Homo sapiens: one gene and its partners. The protein of the gene in region 2 purifies or fractionates together with the protein of the main gene of each other region. This does not show direct contact. Each region holds a gene or a part of one and is shown on either strand. Other genes may lie near its edges.

Evidence for each region.
Region 1: the proteins of ZNF708 (region 2) and TOR2A purify together in Homo sapiens (affinity purification with mass spectrometry, with the first as the bait; one large-scale study listed by BioGRID). This does not show direct contact.
Region 3: the proteins of ZNF708 (region 2) and OCM2 purify together in Homo sapiens (affinity purification with mass spectrometry; one large-scale study listed by BioGRID and IntAct). This does not show direct contact.

Annotation. Positions count from the first base shown.
Region 1 is NC_000009.12:127,732,495-127,736,608, reverse strand, and holds the start of TOR2A (prosalusin isoform a precursor), read left to right. Parts: upstream 1-1,314; 5' UTR 1,315-1,338; coding exon 1,339-1,489; intron 1,490-2,044; coding exon 2,045-2,310; intron 2,311-3,048; coding exon 3,049-3,224; coding exon of another isoform or gene 3,225-3,393; exon of another isoform or gene 3,394-3,835; coding exon of another isoform or gene 3,836-3,917; coding exon 3,918-4,045; exon of another isoform or gene 4,046-4,114. UniProt on the Homo sapiens protein: Salusins -alpha and -beta may be endocrine and/or paracrine factors able to increase intracellular calcium concentrations and induce cell mitogenesis. Salusins may also be potent hypotensive peptides.
Region 2 is NC_000019.10:21,322,872-21,326,589, reverse strand, and holds part of ZNF708 (zinc finger protein 708), read left to right. Parts: intron 1-3,718. UniProt on the Homo sapiens protein: May be involved in transcriptional regulation.
Region 3 is NC_000007.14:97,987,320-97,991,474, forward strand, and holds the start of OCM2 (oncomodulin-2), read right to left. Parts: upstream 2,878-4,155; 5' UTR 2,786-2,877; coding exon 2,725-2,785; intron 1,230-2,724; coding exon 1,097-1,229; intron 1-1,096.

The DNA of each region.
Region 1 (4,114 bases), on a different chromosome or scaffold from region 2:
TTCTCTCTCTTTTCATCCTTTCTGTTTCTCCTTTCCTTTCCTTTCTTTTTCTTTTTGAGATGGAGTTTCACTCTTCTCACTGCAACCTCCGCCTCCCGGGTTTAAGCGATTCTCCTGCCTTAGCCTCCAGAGTAGCCAGGATTACGGGAGCCTGCCACCACGCCCGGCTAATTTTCGTATTTGTAGTAGAGACGGGGTTTCGCCATGTTGATTCACGCGCCTCGGCCTCCCAAAGTGCTGGGATTACAGGCATGAGCCACCGCACCTGGCCGGAAATACTTATTTCTTTTTCAGGCTCTGATATTTGGCCCCAGAAGTCGTGTGTGTGTGTGTGTGTGTGTGTGTGTGTGACTATGTGTTGAGGTTGGTAGGGACAGGGTCTTTGAGGTGGGCCATGAAGGCTGTTGTCTTGGTTCCCTTACTCCAGTGGGTGGGGGAGGTGGGCAACGTGGATCAAAACGAATCCAGGCCAAGCTGGAGGCCTAGGGAGCCTGCGCGCTGAACCTCAAACGTCTGGAGTCCTTTGCCTTCTGAATCCTTTGACCAAGAGAGGCTGATAACATGCAACCACGCACTACGGCTCTGGTTGCAGCCAGACTTGGGTTTAGTTCTATTGTTTACCAGCTGCGTGACATTGGGTAAGAGGCTTAACCTCTTCGGTCCCAAATTCCTCCTTATTAAGATGGGGACAACAACAGAACCCATCTCCCAGGACTGATACCAAGCATTTGGCCACAGTTGCTGCTAGGTGAGGGACAGTCCTGTTTAATACACAACGGAATGTTGATGATCATGTATTGACCACTTTCTGAGCCAGACAATTTGTGTGCCTTTATCTCATTGGAACACCACCATTTCTCTGGATAGCAGATACTATTACCATATTATAAGGTATATAGGCACTTAGCACTAATGGCACAGAGTAAGTGCTCACCAAAAGCTGTTAGTGAGGGCACTTTTGTCATATAGAAGAAAAAAGGAGCATGGAAAAGGCGCTTTGCAAGGTGTAAGGTTCCGCACAAGTTTTTGCTGTAATTGTTACGTCGCCCTTTGTGGTCGTGATCCTTTATTTATTCTTTCTGAGCCACTACGATGGTCCCCTAGTTACCGTGGCCATGGAAACGCGGCCCGCCGTCCCGGATTGGACGGTTCGCGGGTTCCCCCTGGAGGCCACCTTCTGGTCCTGCTGCGGAACGACGGGCGGGCCTTGGAGGCGGGGAGAGGAGCGTCGGGAGTTGTAGGCGATGGGCGTGGCTGCTGCGGAGCGGTGCACGCCGGGAGTTGCAGTTCCCGGGCGAGGCAGTTGACTGCCCCACAACGAGCTCGGGCCTCACCCGGATGGCGGCTGCGACGCGCGGCTGCCGGCCCTGGGGCTCGCTCCTCGGGCTGCTCGGGCTGGTCTCGGCCGCGGCCGCCGCCTGGGACCTGGCTTCCCTGCGCTGCACCTTGGGCGCCTTTTGCGAATGCGACTTCCGGCCCGACTTGCCGGGTGAGGCGCCAGGGAGCCCGGAGCGAGGGGCGGGCGGACGCGGGCAGACGCGGGAGCGCTGGGAGCCCTGGGAGCCCGGCTGGCGCCGGCCAGAGAAGCTGAGGACCCAGAGGGTGGGACCGAGGGGCGGGGCCCGCAGACTTGGGAGGGTGGAGGGTACCCGTTGAGGTCCAGGAGGCCCTGCCAACCTGGAGAGAGGCCTCAGCCAGCAGAACCCTTGGTGGAAGTTCTTGGGCCTCCCCGGAATGGCCTGGCCGTCAAAGGAGAAGTGCAGTGCGCCTTGGGGATGGGCGGGGTCTGCGGCTGACCCCGTTGACAGCTCGCATTTAGAGCTGAGTGCAATCTAGAGGACCGCCTGGTGGGGGCGCTGCCGAGCTGAATCAGGCCCGAAGGTGGCTCTTTTCCGCCACAGACCCCAAGGTTTGCGTGCCATGTGCATAGGCAGCTTGGACAAACGTAAGGACACAGGAGTCCCAGACCAGGTTCCAGACATGATGTTCTCCTTGAACCTCTGCCTCGGTGGGATGTGTCCTCACCATCCTCCTGTGGCCCTAGGTCTGGAGTGTGACCTGGCTCAGCACCTGGCCGGCCAGCATCTGGCCAAGGCGCTGGTGGTGAAGGCGCTGAAGGCCTTTGTGCGGGACCCAGCCCCCACCAAGCCGCTGGTCCTCTCCCTGCACGGCTGGACCGGCACCGGCAAATCCTATGTCAGCTCCCTGCTGGCGCACTACCTCTTCCAGGGCGGCCTCCGCAGCCCCCGCGTGCACCACTTTTCTCCCGTCCTCCACTTCCCCCACCCCAGCCACATCGAGCGCTACAAGGTAGGCTGGATGCGTCCTTGACCACTGTTCTCACCATGGGGTGCCACCCTAGGGAGTAAGTCCTGAGCCCAGACAGGGGAGTCACCTGCTCCAGGCCACACACGGCTGCAGCCCCAGCCCTCAGGACCCATCCTGCACAGAACTTGGGAAGGTGTCATTCTACCTGGCAGGGAGTACTTTGATTCCTTGGGGCAGTAAGGAACCCTGGCAGTACCTACATGCCAGGGTTGTTGTGAGGGACATGAGATTATACCATTGCAGATATCATTTATGGAGCACCTATGTTTGTCAGATAATCTGCACTGTTGTCTTGCTGGAAATCAGCCCCAATTTGTGGCTCAGAGGAAGCATCAGGAAATATTGGCTCTTACTACTACTGTTGTTGATTGCAGGGTACCCACCAGGCTGATCAGTTTCAGCCGTCAACACTGCTGTGTAGTTTCAGGGAGCAGGAAGGAGCCTTCCCCTTTTATAGAAAGCAGCAAGTGTCGTGGAAGGAGCTCTGAACAGGGAAGTGGGAGGCTTGGGTTTGAGTCCCTGTTCTGACTGGCTGTGTGACTTTGGGCAAGTCTCTGCCCCAATCTGGGATACAGTTTCACCATCAGTCTCACTAAGAGGTTGGTGCTCTCTGGAAGACCACATCCTTCCCTAGAAAGGAGATTAGTTTTGGTTTGGGAAGAGGTCTGGTGTTGGGGGAGTTTCTCCAGCTCCCCTGGAACTCCTGTCTCTCCCCTACAGAAGGATCTGAAGAGCTGGGTCCAAGGGAACCTCACTGCCTGTGGCCGCTCCCTCTTCCTCTTCGATGAGATGGACAAGATGCCCCCAGGCCTGATGGAAGTCCTGCGGCCTTTCCTGGGCTCCTCCTGGGTGGTATACGGGACCAATTACCGCAAAGCCATCTTCATCTTCATCAGGTGGGGCCCGGCTTTGCAGTGGGCACAGTGGGGGGGCCACTTCTCAGAGGTTCAGCTCTACAGCCTTAGCCTGTGCTCCCAGCAGAATCCAGTTCCCCATGGGCTTAGCTGGGCTTTCCCAGTGCCCTCCGCCACTCTCAGAGATGACATTGTCATTCCGCCTGGTTGATTTCCCTTTGGACATTCTCAGCAAATTCTGGGCTCAGTCTTTTTGATCGCCACTTCTTTGTGGAAGCCCTGCCAGGTCAAGAAGTTTTCCCTCTTTTGTGGTGAGGAGGACACAGGCCTGGGAAAAATAGGAACAGAGTTCTTGTCCTTTAGTCCCAGCTCTCAGAATCCTCGCTGTGTTTCCTCAGGCAGCATGGCTCCGCCTCTCTGAGCCTCTGTCTCTGCTTCTGAACAGCGGGGCCAATAATGATGCCCCGATGCCTTCCTGGAAGTTCAGTGAGGGAAAGTCAGTTGAGGGACACAAAAGTGTTTTGTAAACTATAAAGTACGTGGCATGTGTAGGTGAATTACAGGGGCCATGGATGTGGACACCATGGAGGGGGAAGTGGAGCGTTTTCAGTGGAGTTGGCTCCTCCCCGCACTGAGCCATGTTCCTATGTCAGGTGGCAGCGGGGAAGCGAGGGTCCAATCCTGCCCTGCGCTAGTCCTCATCTGAGTCTCAGCCTGGGTCCCCCATGGTTTTAGCAACACGGGTGGCAAGCAGATCAACCAGGTGGCATTGGAGGCGTGGCGCAGCCGGCGGGACCGCGAGGAGATCCTCCTGCAGGAGCTGGAGCCGGTCATCTCCCGCGCGGTGCTGGACAACCCGCACCGTGAGTCTGGCTCAGCAGCCCCCTCCCGGGCAGCTTCACCCCACACCCAGGGGCCAGGCTCTCCCGGGG
Region 2 (3,718 bases):
AGTCTTTTATCCCTCGTCCCCCTTCCACTCTTCCCCTCAAATCCCCAAAGTCCATTGTATCATTCTTATGCCTTTGCATCCTTATAGCTTAGCTCCCACATAACAGAACATACCATGTTTGGTTTTCAACTCCTGAGATACTTTGCTTAGAATAATAGTCTCTAGTCTCATCCAGGTTACTGCAAATGCTGTTAATTCATTTTTTATGGCTGTGTAGTATTCCATTGTATATATATACCACAGTTTCTTTATCCATTCATTGATTGATGAGGATTTGGGTTGGTTCCATGATTTTGCTATTGTGAAATGTGCCACTATGAACATGCGTGTGCAAGTATATTTTTCGAATAATGACTTCTTTTCCTCTGGGTAGATACCCAATTGTGGGATTGCTGGATCAAATGGTAATCCTACTTTTAGTTCTTTAAGGAATCTCCACAGTGTTTTCCATAGTGGCTTTTCTAGTTTACATTCCCACCAGCAATGTAGAAGTGTTCCCTGTTCACCACGTCCATGCCAACATCTACTGTTTCTTGATTTTTTGATCATGGCCATTCTTGCAGGAGTAAGGTGGTATCGCATTGTGGTTTTGATTTGCATTTCCCTGATCATTAGTGATGTTGAGGATTTTTTCATATGTTTGTTGGCCATTTGTATACCTTCTTTTGAGAATTGTTTATTCATATCCTTAGTCCACTTTTTGATGGGATTGTTTGTTTTGTACTGATTTGTTTGGGTTTGTTGTAGACTCTAGATATTAGTCCTTTGTCAGACGTATAGATTGTGAAGATTTTTTCTCACTCTATGTGTTGTCTGTTTACTCTGCTGACTGTTCTTTTTGCCGTGTAAAAACTATTTAATTTAATTAGGTCCCTGATATTTATCTTTGTTTTTATTGCATTTGCTTTTGAGTTCTTGGTCATGAAATCCTTGCCTAATCTAATGTCTAGAAGGGTTTTTCCAATGTTATGTTTTATAATTTTTATAGTTTCCGATCTTAGGTTTAAGTCCTTAATCCATCTTGAGTTGATTTTTGTATAAGATGAGAGATGAGGATCCAGTTTCATTCTCCTACATATGGCTAGCCAATTATCCCAGTACCATTTGTAGAAAAGGGTGTCCTTTCCCCACTTTATGTTTTTGTTTGCTTTGCTGAAGATCAGTTGGCTGTAAGTATTTGGGTTTATTTCTGGGTTCTCTATTCTGTTCCATTGGTCTATGTGCCTATTTTTAAACCAGTAACATGCTGTTTTGGTGACTATGGCCTTATAGTGTAGTTTGAAATCAGGTAATGTTATGCCTCCAGATTTGTTCTTTTTGCTTAGCCTTGTTTTGGCTACGCAGGCTCTTTTTTGTTCCACATGAATTTTAGAATTTTTTTTAATTCTGTGAAGAATTATGGTGGTATTTTGATAAGGATTGCACTGAATTTGTAGATTGCTTTTGGCAGTATGGTCATTTTCACAATATTGATTCTACTTATCCATGAGCGTGGGATTTGTTTCCATTTGTTTGTGCCATCTATGATTTCTTTCATCAGTGTCAGGTGTATTTTTTATGGCTTGGTAATTTCCAATAAAATTTCAAGGCTGTTTAAGAATGCTACCAAGAAAAAGAATAGGGGAAATGTCTTTCCCATTTTGGCTGTAGAAAATGAGTACATTTTCACAAGAAAATGTGGTAGATAATTGCTGAGTTACATAGATTCATGAAAGCATCAGCTCCTCTTTTTGCAGGGTAAATTTGTGACAGTGAATATCTCTGTTCAAATCCTGTTATCTTGATTTCCTAGTTTTAAGCTAAATTTTATTTGAAACTTGGTACCTCCTAGACATGTTTCCATATGACTAATTGTTTACTATATGACTTTTAATGGAAATAATAAAATAATGCATTTATTGTTTGAAAGGAATGGACACTTTTGCTTTTCTTATTGAGATATGAAATATAAGCACCCTAAAATTTTCTTCTCTTATGTCAACACTGTGTTTGAGAAACTGCTGGATTTTTTTTTTATTTTTTGAAATGGAATTTCTCTCTTATTGCCCAGGCTGGAGTGCAATGTCATGATCTCGGCTTACTGCAGCTTCCGCCTCCTGGGTTCAAACTATTCTCCTGCCTCAGTCTCTTGAGTAGCTGGGATTACAGGCATGCACCACCACACCTGGTTAATTTTGTATTTTTAGTAGAGACGGGGTTTCTGCATGTTGGTCAGGCTGGTCTCAAACTCCTGACCTCAGGTGATCTGCCCGCCTCGGCCTCCCAAAGTGCTGGGATTACAGGCGTAAGCCACTGCGCCCAGCCAAGAAACGCTGGATTTTTTAAACACTTAAGTTTATTTTTTTTTGAGACGGAGTCTTGCTCTGTAGCCAGGCTGGAGTGCAGTGGCGCGATCTCAGCTCACTGCAAGGTCCACCTCCCGGGTTCACACCATTCTCCTGCCTCAGCCTACCCAGTAGCAGGGACTACAAGTGCCCGCCACCACGCCCGACTAATTTTTTTTTTTGTATTTTTAGTAGAGACAACGTTTCACCATGTTAGCCAGGATGGTCTTGATCTCCTGACCTTGTGATCCACCCGCCTCAGCCTCCCAAAGTGTTGGGATTACAGGCGTGAGCCACTGCGCCCGGCTAAACACTTAAGTTTCAAAGACCAAGTGAATAACTCTTGACATGGAAATTAAAGCTTTAGCCCACTGGCTCAGAGCTAAGGCTAATATTGAGCCTGCAAAAAAATTTTATTAAAGGCCCAGTTAGTTTTTTCTGGGGAGTCTCCTCTGTAGATATCCCAGCCTGCTCACCCCAGCCATAGAAGTCTTTATCCTGGGAGAAGCTACAGAGCCCTGGAAAGCTGGGGACCCACAGGTGGATGCAGTTGATGTTAAAATGAAAGGGGATTGGGAGGGTCTTACTGAAGATGAAGTTGTTCTTGTTTTGAGGCAGTTTATAGACTTTGAAAATAAAACAAGGTTGAATTTACATAAAAATTTTGACTTCCAAAGAAATATTGCAACAGAAGTACCAACTACAAGGTCTTTAAGAATTGCAAAGTTCAGGCAGACAAAGGCTTCCTTTCCTAAGGAGGAACAAACAAGATTAGAAAGGAGGTGGAAGGGGAATGGCAAATGCAGGGTGAAAAAATCAGATTTTAGATCAGAGAATGTTTCACACTGAAGTCAGCCTGTTCTTTGGAGTTACATAAAATGGGTTTGTAAAGTTCAGAAGCCTTGGGGAAAAAGACAAACTTAAGTAAAGTTTCCTTAAGAAGTATTTTATTTTCACCACTGAAGTCAAATTCAACTGATTTTTCAATAAGAAAAAAAATGTGCAGAGTCGGTGTCTGCTATGTGATAGATAAGAAAAGAGAGCACCATCTAAGTCATAATGGGAAGGGTGTTTCTTTCGATAAACTGTTCCTGGAGAACACAAACAATGAAGAATTTTATTAATCACAGTTATTTATCTGGATTGTCTATGTGTGTCATCTTTCCCCACCTTTCTTTGTTCTATACATGTCTGCCATTTGACTTTTCCTGGGTTGTATCTTTTATAATAAACTGGTAAATATAACTACAGTATTTGCTGAGTTCTATGAGTAGCTTTATCAAATTATTGAACTTGAAAAAGGTTATGGGAGTCCTCAATTTTTAAACAGTAGCTCAGAAATGTAAATGGGCCCATGGAGTTTGTGCCTGGCATCTGCCGTAAGGACAGTGTGG
Region 3 (4,155 bases), on a different chromosome or scaffold from region 2:
GGCACTTCATTTTTAAGGTTTTGTTTGTTTGTTTGTTTATTTTTGAGATAGGGTCTTGCTCTGTCACCCAGGCTGGAATGCAGTGATACCATCATGGCTCACTGCAGCCTCAACTTCCTGGGCTCAATCAATCCTTCTGCCTCAACCTCCCGAGTAGCTGGGACTAAAGGTGCACCCCCCCATGCCCCACTAACATTTGTATTTTTTTTTTGTAGAGACAAGGTTTTGTCATGTTGCCCAGACTGGTCTTGAAATCCTGGGCTCACTCAAGCAATCCACCCACCTCAGCCTCCCAAAGGGCTGGGATTGTAGGTGTGAGCCACAGTGCCTGGCCCATTTTTAAGTTTTTAGTGGTTTTAATTTTTATTTATTTATTTATTTATTTGAGACAGAGTCTCTGTCACCCAGGCTGGAGTGCAGCTGCACGATCTGGGCTCACTGCAACCTCTGCCTCCTGATTTCAAGCAATTCTTGTGCTTCAGTCTTCTGAGTAGCTGGAATTACAGGCGTGAGCCACCGCGCTTAGCCAAGTTTTTAGTTTTTTAAAGTCCATTTGCCAAAGGAAATCCCTTACATGAAAGAATCTTTGCGGCTGGGCACGGTGGCTCACACCTGTAATCCCAGCACTTTGGGAGGCCAAGGCAGGAGGATCACTTGAAGTCAGGAGTTTGAGACCAGCCTGGCAACATGGTGAAACCCCATCTCTACTCTAAATATGAAAATTAGCTGGATGTGGTGGCAAGCACCTGTAATCCCAGCCACTTGGGAGACTGAGGCATGAGAATCACTTGAGTTTGGAAGGCGGAGGCTGCAGGGAGCTGAGATCACCCCACTGCACTCCAGCCTGGGTGACAGTGAGGCCCTGTCTCAAAAAAAAAAAAGAATCTTTGCACCTGTAGTCTTCACTGCCCATGTTGAGGGCTTTGCATGGGTAGATGTGCGGTCAACTGACTCATGTCCTTTGCTTTAATGATGCTTGGCCGAATGACCAACACCAAGGCTGGCCATTGAAGAAATACTGAGCAACCTGGCCCCCACTGCACCCCAGGCCCACCCAGCAGTGCCAGGTACCAGACAGCCTCAGGACAAAGCTTACTTAAGCTCTTCTTCATCCAGATACCCGCTCTGGTCGTTGTCTATGAACCGGAAAACATCCTTCACCTGACTGGCTGACATCTTGGAGAGGCCTGACGTCTGGAAGAATTTTTGGGGTTCAAAAGTGTCTGGGTCTGAAGAACAGAGAATGGGTTATTCTGACACTCATTGGATCACATTCTATGTTGGGGCCAAGGTACTGAAAACACAGATGATTAAAAACACTTCAACAATATCCCTGAGCTACGGGGATGCTCAACTGGTCTAAGATTTTGGGACAGCCAAGACTTGATGGCTCTGTGATGGCATCCCATGTCCCCTCCGCCCCGGTCTTCCCTCCTCCACTTGGTTTTGTCCATTTTCCTTTTCCCTCCTCCTCTCCTCTGTGCCTCCCCCTCCCCCTGGCCCACTTTACAGGCTGTGTGGCCGAGCCCCCAACATCCCTGGTCTAATTGGTAGGGGGAAATGCAATCACTGGATTTCAACAGGCTAAATGGCCTTTGGCGATTTCTTTCTTTCTTTTTTTTTTTTTTTTGAGACAGAGTCTCACTCTGTCGCCAGGCTGGAGTGCAGTGGCGTGATCTCGGCTCACTGCAACCTCTGCCTCCCAGGTTCAACTGATTCTCCTGCCTCAGCCTCCCGAGTAGCTGGGATTACAGGCATGCACCCCCATGCCCAGCTCATTTTTGTATTTTTAATAGAGACAGGGTTTTGTCAGGCTGGCCAGGTTGGTCTTGAACTCCTGACCTCAAGTGATGCACCGGCCTTGGCCTCCCAAAGTGCTGGGATTACAGGTGTGAGCACCACACCTGGCCCTTCAGTGATTTCTTGCTTTCATGTTTAGTAGGTTTCTTTTGTCTTACAGAAGTGTAATCGTGTGCTCAGATCCCAGATCTCTATAATTTTAGTTATCTAATAAATAGTAGTTTTCTTCTCTGATTCCATGAATTTTCCAGCCAAGCTCTTATTTACTTATTTATTTATTTATTTATTTATTTATTTAGAGACAGAGTCTCACTCTGTCGTCCAGGCTGGAGTGCAGTGTAGCGATCATAGCTCACCACAGCCTCAACCTCCTGGGCTTGAGTGATCCTCCTACCTTAGTTTCCAGAGTAGCTGGGACCACAGGCACATGCCACCATGCCCCGCTAGTTTTTATTTTTATTGTTATGTTGTAGAGATGGAGTCTTGTTATGTTGCCCAGGCTGGTCTCAAACTCCTGGGCTCAAACAGTCCTCTCACCTTGGCCTCCGAAAAGTGTTGGGATTACGGATGTGAGCCACCATGCCTGGTCTACATTTTTTTTTTTTTTGTAGACAGAGTCTACAAAAAAGGCCGGGTTCAAGCAATTCTCAGCCTCAGCCTCCCGAGTAGCTGGGATTACAGGTGCCCACCACCACGCCTGGCTAATTTTTTTGTATTTTTATTAGAGATGGGGTTTCACCATCTTGGCCAGGCTGGTCTCAAACTCCTGACCTCGTGATCCACCCACCTCAGCCTCCCAAAGTGCTAGGATTACAGGCGTGAGCCACTGCGTCTGGCCGCCTGGCCTACATTTTGATTTTGTGTTGCCTCGCTGGAGGGGCAAAGCTGTGAGGAAATCCCACCCCCGCCCCACGTCCCCTCTACCTTGGCATTCCTGGAGCGCTGCTGCAATGTCATCAGCACTGAGCACGTCCGTGATGCTCATTTTCTACCTACTCACACAGAATAAACGAGAGGCGATAAGCCACAAACAGGAACGTGCACATCCAGGGGAAACACATCTTCCCAGGCCCACTGAAACTGTATGTGTGTCTAGATTTTTTTTTTTTTTTTTTTTGAGATGGAGTCTCACTCTGTCACCCAGGCTGGAGTGCAGTGGCACAATCTTGGCTCACTGCAACCTCCACCTCCTGGGCTCAAGTGATTCTCCTGCCTCAGCCTTCCGAGTAGCTGGGATTACAGGTGCGCACTACCAGGCCTGGCTGATTTTTGTGTTTTTAGTAGAGATGGGGTTTTGCCATGTTTGCCAGCCTGGTCTCGAGCTCCTGACCTCATGTGATCTGCCTGCCTTGGCCTCACAAACTGCTGGGATTACAGGCATAAGCCACCAAGCCAGGCCTGTCTAGAATTTTTAAAATGTGATAAGCATGGTTTTGTATTAAGTGACGGGACAGAATATCCAAATTAAAACCAGATACCAAAAAGACCCCAGCCCTTTTTGTCTCAGAGCCTTCTTTTGAATATATGCCAAAAATGAAAAAAAAAAACATGACCCAAAGAAGGATTCAATTGTTTTCTTATAAAAATTATACTGACATAATCAGTCATTTGCATAGGCAGCCGTAAACCATGTTACAAATGCACTGGCATTTTCCTACAGCAGTCCGAGAGATGCACTGTTGCAAATTCCACGTGGGAAAGGATACAGTTTGGGCTGCTTGCAGACATTCTGTGGAAGAAGACATGCTACCTGTCCTGAAAGGTGGGAAGCAGATGGATGAAAAGCCCATCTCCCAGAGATTAAAATCCTTCCAGATGTCAGAGCCATGGGAAAACAGGAGTCTAAGCACCTGAGCCTAATATGAATGCATGCAGTGAAGAAGAGTCTGGGGTCTGATGGGTCCACCAGTTACTCACCGTTTTAGGTTTTCCCCCAGGAAGAATCAGGAAAAAGAGTTGAAGGAGCAAAACAACAGATGTGCTTTTGCTACCTTACTGACCTACCTTATATAGGCTAGAAAAAGTGATAGTTACAACCTCTTAGATTTCCTTTTCAAGGATCAAGTGGATGCAGCTCAAATGTCTTGTCCTACTCAGGAAACCTCTTTTTTTTTTCTATTTATGTCTCAAGGGAATGTGGGTGGGAATAGCCAATTGTAAAAACAACAACAACAACAACAACCTCAACAAACCTTAACTAAGGTTTCAATTCTGCAAACGAACCCTGTTGGCAAAGTGTGGAGAAGGTTCTAGAGCCTGGTAAGCTGGAGATGGTGGCCTGAACTAAGACAAACACATACAGGGTGCTCTGTAAGCTGAAAAGCTCCCCAGATGTTAGCAGGTACCGTTGGAGGC